2 linked regions of the Homo sapiens genome follow. The protein of the gene in region 2 interacts with the protein of the main gene of each other region in a biochemical or structural test. Each region holds a gene or a part of one and is shown on either strand. Other genes may lie near its edges. The genes, in order: DNAJB4 and OPRM1.

Evidence for each region.
Region 1: the proteins of OPRM1 (region 2) and DNAJB4 form a complex in vitro, tested with the Homo sapiens proteins (one study listed by BioGRID).

What each region holds. Positions count from the first base shown.
Region 1 is NC_000001.11:78,003,613-78,007,738, reverse strand, and holds the start of DNAJB4 (dnaJ homolog subfamily B member 4), read right to left. Parts: upstream 2,801-4,126; 5' UTR 2,629-2,800; coding exon 2,418-2,628; intron 1-2,417. UniProt on the Homo sapiens protein: Probable chaperone. Stimulates ATP hydrolysis and the folding of unfolded proteins mediated by HSPA1A/B (in vitro).
Region 2 is NC_000006.12:154,129,221-154,133,074, reverse strand, and holds the end of OPRM1 (mu-type opioid receptor), read right to left. Parts: 3' UTR 719-3,854; downstream 1-718. UniProt on the Homo sapiens protein: Receptor for endogenous opioids such as beta-endorphin and endomorphin. Receptor for natural and synthetic opioids including morphine, heroin, DAMGO, fentanyl, etorphine, buprenorphin and methadone.

The sequences.
Region 1 (4,126 bases), on a different chromosome or scaffold from region 2:
ACAGTGTATCTAAATGGGATTTTTTAATAGAATAAATGAGATATTCTGAATAAACGGCAAACAAATATAATACTTTCCTGTGAAGGAAGAATAATTCTAAAAAATAATTCAAATAACTTTCATTCAATTGTATTTTCTTTTTTTCCTTTTCTTTTTTTGAGATGAGGTCTCGCTCTGTCGCCCAGGCTGAAGTGCAGTGGCTCGATCTCGGCTCACTGCAACCTCTGCCTCTTGGGTTCAAGTGATTCTCCTACCTCACCCTTCCAAGTAGCTGGGATTAGAGGTGTCTGCCACCACACCTAGCTAATTTTTGTATTTTTAGTAGAGACAGGGTTTCACCATGTTGGCCAGGCTGGTCTCGAACTCCTGACCTCAGGTGATCGCCTGTCTCGGCCTCCCAAAGTGTTGGAATTACAGGCATGAGCCACGGCGCCTGGCCCATTCAATTGTATTTTCAAGTAACCTATAACTAGAGAATGGTATTTCTGCATAATATATTTCTATGTTTTAAAAAAGGCATTCTCTCCTCACTCTTTCCTTCTATCACTTATATCAATTATGTAAGTTAAAAAAAAAAACCCAGGGTATACAGATTCAGGGTGATTTAGTTTTTAAAAAATTCACTCATTGTGTAATGACCAATAAAAATTAAATGAGAAAAATCACTCTAGAAAAGCACTATTAAGAGATAATGTTAAATCAAGAAAAATGTATCATTTGGTGACTTGAAAATTCTGAAGACAAATATCCTTACTAAACCCTGGATCCAATGGCTTAGCCACAAACTTGAGCTATCAGTGAATTGTTGCAAAATATTTTAAATACAAAGCAGTGGATATCTGCTTTTTCACAGGAATTCACAGTGTCATTCCATGTTTGTGAATTTCTTTACAAAATTACAAAATTACTCCTTTAGAAATAGTAGTACATTATTGGTAGTATCTCAGAATCCTGCTTAGCTTTTGAGATAAACCAAGTCATGATATTTTGGGTAATATGGCCATAGGTATCATGCAAGATTGAACTGCCCAGTATTTGCCTTTTTCAATATTTACTTTGTAAGAACCTGACACTGTAGGTCCTCACCACACCAAAACCTGCAACATAAACTTCAATTTTGGGCAACTCATAGACCAAAAAAGCTAAACAAAACAAAAAGGAAAAAACCCTCTATATACAATCACCCTGCTTGTCTACATTTAATTTGTTTCATTCAAAATAAGCAGTCACTGCTTGACTATATTTTAAGGATATATTTCTAATTAGGAAAATTTGATGTTAAATGTAATAAAGGAATCAAAGGGATAACAAGTTTTCATAGCTACAGTGATTTGAAAGCCAGTATTTTGGGAGAAAAACTAATAATAAAATAACTTAGTCCTGATGTTAAAAGTTGAAAATCCCCAAAACAGTACAAGTTAAAGTTTTTTGTGTTATCAATTAGCAATTTAAAATAGTCTTACTTCATAGCCCCGTTTATATGGAAGTGATGGACAAACCTGATTTAAAATGCAGAATGAGAAAAGGATAATCTGAAATTATCCTCCTTTACTGTGCTCACTAGTTTTTGATCTCACAATGCAAAAAACAAAAGTATGGCAGGGAGAGGAAAGGGAAGTTGTCATGTTTTTCTCTATACCTAGATAGTAAAATTTCTAAATAAATAATGTTATCTAAAAGTAAATCAGTAATTATTCTAACTAGGTGGCCATTTTAGGTCAAAAATTGTATTTCTGAGATTTCATTTTCTTGGCACAAAATTATTGTTTACAATTAAGCTAAAAACTTGTTCTGGTATTTTATGACATCAGGAAAATTCTTTCCTCTCCAGGCAGAATGCCAAAAACAACTAGAAGCTAAATGCCTGCGCCTTCTGCTTCTGAGAGTCACAACTCTGTCTTGTTCAGTCTAAACTAGCCTTGCTATAAGAAAGGCAAAAAACTACTTTTTGTTTTTGTGAATAAGCTATAAACTACTCAGAATCTGAAATGCCAATCTTAAGGTTTTAAATGACTAAAGACTCTTTATTGGTTCTGGCAGAAAATTCATTAGAAAACGAAACAGGTTTCATAAGACTTTTGACACAATTTACTAATAGGTATGGGAATTCAAGGTTTATTTTAAAATATACATTGTTAACATTGTAAGTCTAATGATAAAATATGTATAATACAAAATGCTAAAATAAAAAAGGCAAACAAGGACATTTCATTCATGGCTCTGCAATACTCATTCATATGATCAGAGATGAAACCTTGTTATTATACATTTGTCCTTCTACTTTTGATATGACTGAGAATCCAATTTAAGGATAACCTTAACAAGCTGAGAGAGAGGGGAAAAAGGCTGGCAGAGAGAGAGAAAAAAAAAAAAGAGACAGAGCTGAAGAGACAGAAAGATATACAGAGAATACTTACCTTCCTCCCCAAACTGATCATATATTTCTCTCTTTTTAGGATCACTCAATACTTCATAAGCTTCTGCGACCTCTTTAAATTTTTCCTCTGCCTGAGGAGATTTGTTCTTGTCCGGATGAAATTTGAGGGCTTGTTTTCGGTAAGCCTTTTTAATATCTTCATCTGAAGCTCCTTTCTCAATTCCCAAAATGCAATAATAGTCTTTCCCCATTTCGAATGCCTTGAAATTAACTTAGATTTCCCTTTGTAAAAGAAAACAGCGTCCCCAGTCTTAGCAACAGATTCTAAGAAAAATAAACCAAGCTGGGTATTTTAAAAGTTAATCAGCAATTCAGCTAGCTGTCTTAAGGCAGCAAGCAGACAGCGTCTCTGTATTCAATCCTTCCCCAACGGCTCACTTACAGATAAATATACACTACACAGGAGACAGCCTCCTTCTAGATCCTCCCATTTTCACTACGTGTCTCTGTACTTTCTAGAACAGCAAATGCTACAGGACGTCACTTTCCCAGCTGCCTCTAGTCAAAGTACTGAGCTATGTTTTCTCCTCCTCCACGATTAACTATTCATTTTCCGACTAGCTCTACCGTCTTTATTTCCTAATTAAACAGGACAAATGGGTTAACATGCCAATATTTCAACACAGAATGTCACAACTATATATTTATGTACTCCATACTAGGTGAAAATCATCACAGTCATTAAACACCCTATGTTAAAAGAAGTTAAAGTTAATATACAGATAAAAGGAACGACAATTCTACTTTAGGGATTTTTTAATTTTAAGCTATTTGTCTGTTAAGTATATAATACCAAAACGCAGGTTGTTTAAATTAGGATTTCCAAGTAATTTATGTCGTCTTCAAAATTCCTGGGGTCTATCAATCAGAAACGCCAGAAAGTTTGTGTACTAGTTTCACATTGTTAAGGGAGTATCTATAATAAAATTCAAATGCGTTATTTTAAAATAAGTAAAGGACTTAAACATGATTTTAGCTAACTAGTTATTTCTAGTATACATGAGTTCATAGTTCTGGCAAACAAATACTTATTTTTGAAATTTTAGTATCTGAACTTAGTTACTTCAACTAAACTAAAACTGAATGAGGTCCCTGCCACCCCTCAACCCCCGTCCCCTGCAGCCGCCCCACAGGATCCCTATTTAAAGAACTGTGGTGCTGCAGGAAAGCTAGAACAAAGTATCAGGTTACAGACAGTACATACTCATGTTCCTTACAAGACTTAACTGCAACTGCATCAATGTAAAATTTGGATATGCCACTTAAGGGGCAGTAATATGAGAAATATTTTTTCTTTCAAAAACACATTTCCCTAATTATAAATATATATTCATTGTTGGAGATTTTGGAAAACGCAGAAAAAAGTTTTTAAAAATCTCCCTATAATATCATTTTAGGTAATCCCTGTTAAATATTACTGTATTTACTTCTAATTCTGTTTTCTATAAATCTTCATGGTTATTTGCTGTAGTTTTATAATTTTTTGTTAACAAAGTTAGATCATAGCATTTATATACCCTTTTGATGCCTGCTTTTGAAAGTATAACATATTTCAGGTATTTATGAGACATTTTCTATGTATATAACTCATCTTTTATCTCCTGTATGGTTTTCTCATCTTTTCAAAAATGTTCCCATTTCTATTAGAGAGATAAATAAGAAAAGTCAGAAGAATTGCACACAGTCCAA
Region 2 (3,854 bases):
ATTTCGGCTCACTGCAAGCTCCGCCTCCCGGGTTCACACCATTCTCCTGCCTCAGCCTCCCGAGTAGCTGGGGCTACAGGTGCCTGCCACCATGCCCGGCTAATTTTTTGAATTTTTAGTAGAGATGGGGTTTCACCGTGTTAGCCAGGATGGTCTCGATCTCCTGACTTCGTGATCCACCCACCTCAGGCTCCCAAAGTGCTGGGATTACAGGCGTGAGCCACCACGCCCAGCCGTTTTTTTCTTACCATAAAGTGTTTTCATGTTGAGACGTTTCCACTTCAAAAAATTGTACCTAACAACCCAGAGCATGCTCTGAATTTCACCTTATCAAACTCTTTGTTTCTTGCAAATAATTTTCCTGCTCAAAACATCAAGAACACATTTTTAAAAAAAGTAGACTATCAGTGGATTTAGCTGCCTATATTTTCAACTATAGACTTTACAGTGGATATTTTTCTTCTCTGTATGGTTTGGTTAGAATTCTAGCTTAGGAAGTTATGGTTGTCAAGGTTTAGAGACATTTTGGTTCTAAAAATAGAAATAATTCATGAAGAGAGAAAGTTCACTTCTTTATTTTGAAGTATTTATTTAGTATCAAAGTTGTCTGTTACTCTAATTCTTAGGCTATTTACCTACGTCGCAACATTTACTTGGGGAATATTCTTTTAAAACAGGTCAGTAATGTCAGAATGAGAAAGACAAGGGAAAATCTAGATTTGTATCAGTTTTAGGTTTTATTTATCACATATAATTACACATTACATATTACATGCAGGAAACTTACAATACAGCCTAATATGTTTATGTATGCTGGTACATCAAGAACAATACAATGCAAAAATTTATATTTTTTATATACAACTATCTGAAACAGTCAAATAGGAGTAATGTAAAAATAATTTAGTGAATTGCTCACTGTTTGATATACTAGTTGACATTTTGATCTGCACATGAGACCATTATGATTTAGCAGGTAGTTCTTTTGAAAGCTGCATCTGATCATCCTGTCCTACCTGGAAATGTGAAATAGTAGCTTTGTCTCTACTTTAAATGAAGATATTTATTTTTCAATAGTAAACAGACATGATGATGGAACTAACACACTAATGAAGAGAAAAAAAAAAAAAAACCAAAAACTTATAGAAAAACTCCCAGACCATCAAAAGGAAAACAATGTTGTGTGTTTTTTTTTAACATTCCTTTTTGTGCATTATCACAACAAACAATATATGTATTTGTCTCTATAGGCGAAATACAGGTTTCCAGGCAAATATTTTTGAAAAGCAGATGTGGGGAAAGAGCTTAAAAACACACACAGAAAGCATGTTGTGCTCACTGTTACAACTGTGGATTTCATACCATGTTTTGAAAGGTGATTGTGTTTTCATTTACTTGGATACAAAATCCGTAAAACAGAAACTATTCTATACTTTTTTATTTTAATATGACCAGTTGACATTTCTATGTCCTGTTTAGGTGTCTGGACTACTGTAAATTAAAATGTCACCCTGGCATACAAACTGAATCTACGTGCAGAGCAGCAGGGGTCTATCTTTTATTTCACCCCCAACACTGTCAAGGAAACGAATTAATTCTGCCCTTCTTTCAGACTCAGGAATATAAGCAGCTAGAAAGAGGACAATGGGTGGAAGGGTTGATTGCTTATGTTAGGTTTGACTTAAAGCTATAGAATAAAGAAGGAACAATTCAGTTGCCATTCTTATTCCTGGAGAGGAAAAATAGTTTGTGGGCAGGAGTCTGTTTAAAATGTCTGAACTTAATCAACCATGAGAGGCTCTCATTTACTCAGATTCTTTACAATATTTTGATTTTTTTCCTACGGAAACATTATATGTATCTTTTAAAACCAAGGGTTATTAGTTACCTGAATTTCAAATGCAATTTAAAACATGGAGGACATCTTTTCTTTTCTAGTGGAAATTATATTTGGATAGCAAAAAATGTGTCATTAATGTTATAAAAAAATGTAATGACAAGTGACAGAGCACCTAATCTTTAGACTTACTTTTTTTTAACTTTCCTATTTGCTATGTTTGACAGAGTAGTTTTTCAATTTTTTAAAATAAATCTGCACTTACAAGGTTTCTTTTTTTCATATAACATAATAAAATGAAAACAACAAGATCACTCATTGTTTTACATTTTCATAACTGGCTATTTAAGTATGTAAAAGTTCAGGAAATGTATTGCCAGGGGAAGGATGACTTAGTGAAAACAGGCATTTTTTCTTTAATTCCCATTAAAATAATGGAAATGTATGTGCCAATATAAATTCCCATTTATATTGGTATATATATATTCCCTTTATATATTCTATTTATATTGGTAGATATATTTTTATGGAATGGCATATATACTTTCATATAATGGTACTAATGCTTTTATATGGATATACAATTAGTATATAAAGGGAATATATATACTAGTATTTCTAACTTAATTCCTATTAAATTGATGGGGATTTATAGGCAAATATTCATATAGCTATGCCTAACACAGAAATTTTTATGGTAGGAGTATTAAATTATAAATGGTAGCATTGAATTTTATGGATTCAAGATTTATGAAATTTTAAACATTTCTGGCCAGGCGCAGTGGCTCACACCTGTAATCCCAACACTTTGGGAGGCCGAGGCAGGCAGATCACGAGGTCAGGAGATCGAAACCATCCTGGCTAACGTGGTGAAACCCCATCTCTACTAAAAATACAAAAAATTAGCCAGGTGTTGTGGCGGGCACCTGTAGTCCCAGCTACTCAGGAGGCTGAAGCAGGAGAATGGTGTGAACCCGGGAGGCAGAGGTTGCAGTGAGCCAAGATTGAGCCACTGCACTCCAGCCTGGGCGACAGAGTGAGACTCCATCAAAAAAAAAAAAAAAAAAGAAAATTTAAACATTTCCATGAAATCGATGGTTTGGGTAGAGACAAAATAATTTAAATTTCAAATTAAGATTTAGATAGAGATAGTATAATTGAAAGCAAATTCTAATTTTCATTTTAAGTTTACTTCCAGAGTACAAATGTAAATAACAAGAGTGCAAGTAAATTATTGATGCTGGAGTTTCAAATAAGGAGGTAAGCCTTTGGTAAATTGTATTTTAGTATTGATTGCATTTTATTTTGATTACAACTATCATATAATTCCCACGGGTCCATTTCACTATGTTGTGTGTGTGTGTGTGTGTGTGTGTGTGTGTGTGCTGGGGGGGGAGGGTGTCGGTGGTAAAGTACGCTTAAAATGCAAAGTGCCTGACTGATAAGAGAAACTTCAACCAAACCAGCCATTTAAAAAAATCACAGGAGTCTTCAAAAGCTTGAGCAGCTGTAGAGCAATCCCCAACAGTCTGGGAGCTCATCAGACCTTGAACTAAAGAAATATGTTTCAAGAATAGATATAGAACTATTTTTCAAATGAATGTAGATGTTCTTATGAGAACTAAAATACACATCTGAAATTATTATTGACATTTTAGTTTTTCCATTATGATTTTCTGTAACAGTGGGCACTAAAACTCAATTATGTGGAAGTCTCCAATCATATATGATGTTGACATTGAGAGGAGAGAAAGACCCTCTCACATTGTTTTATATTGTTTCATATTCAGTAAAAACAACAAGGAAGTAAAACCAAATACAGGCAGCTCAGCGCCAGGCCCGAAACCAGGCCTGGGCCCGCCTGGCCTAAACCCAGTAGTTAAAAATCAACTTATGATTTAGAAGCCGATGTTATTCATAGATTCCTTACATTGTATAGAAGAACATTGTTCTGTTCTCTATTGTATAGAAGAACTCCCTGTCCTGTTCTGTTCCTCCCAGACCACCGGTGCATGCA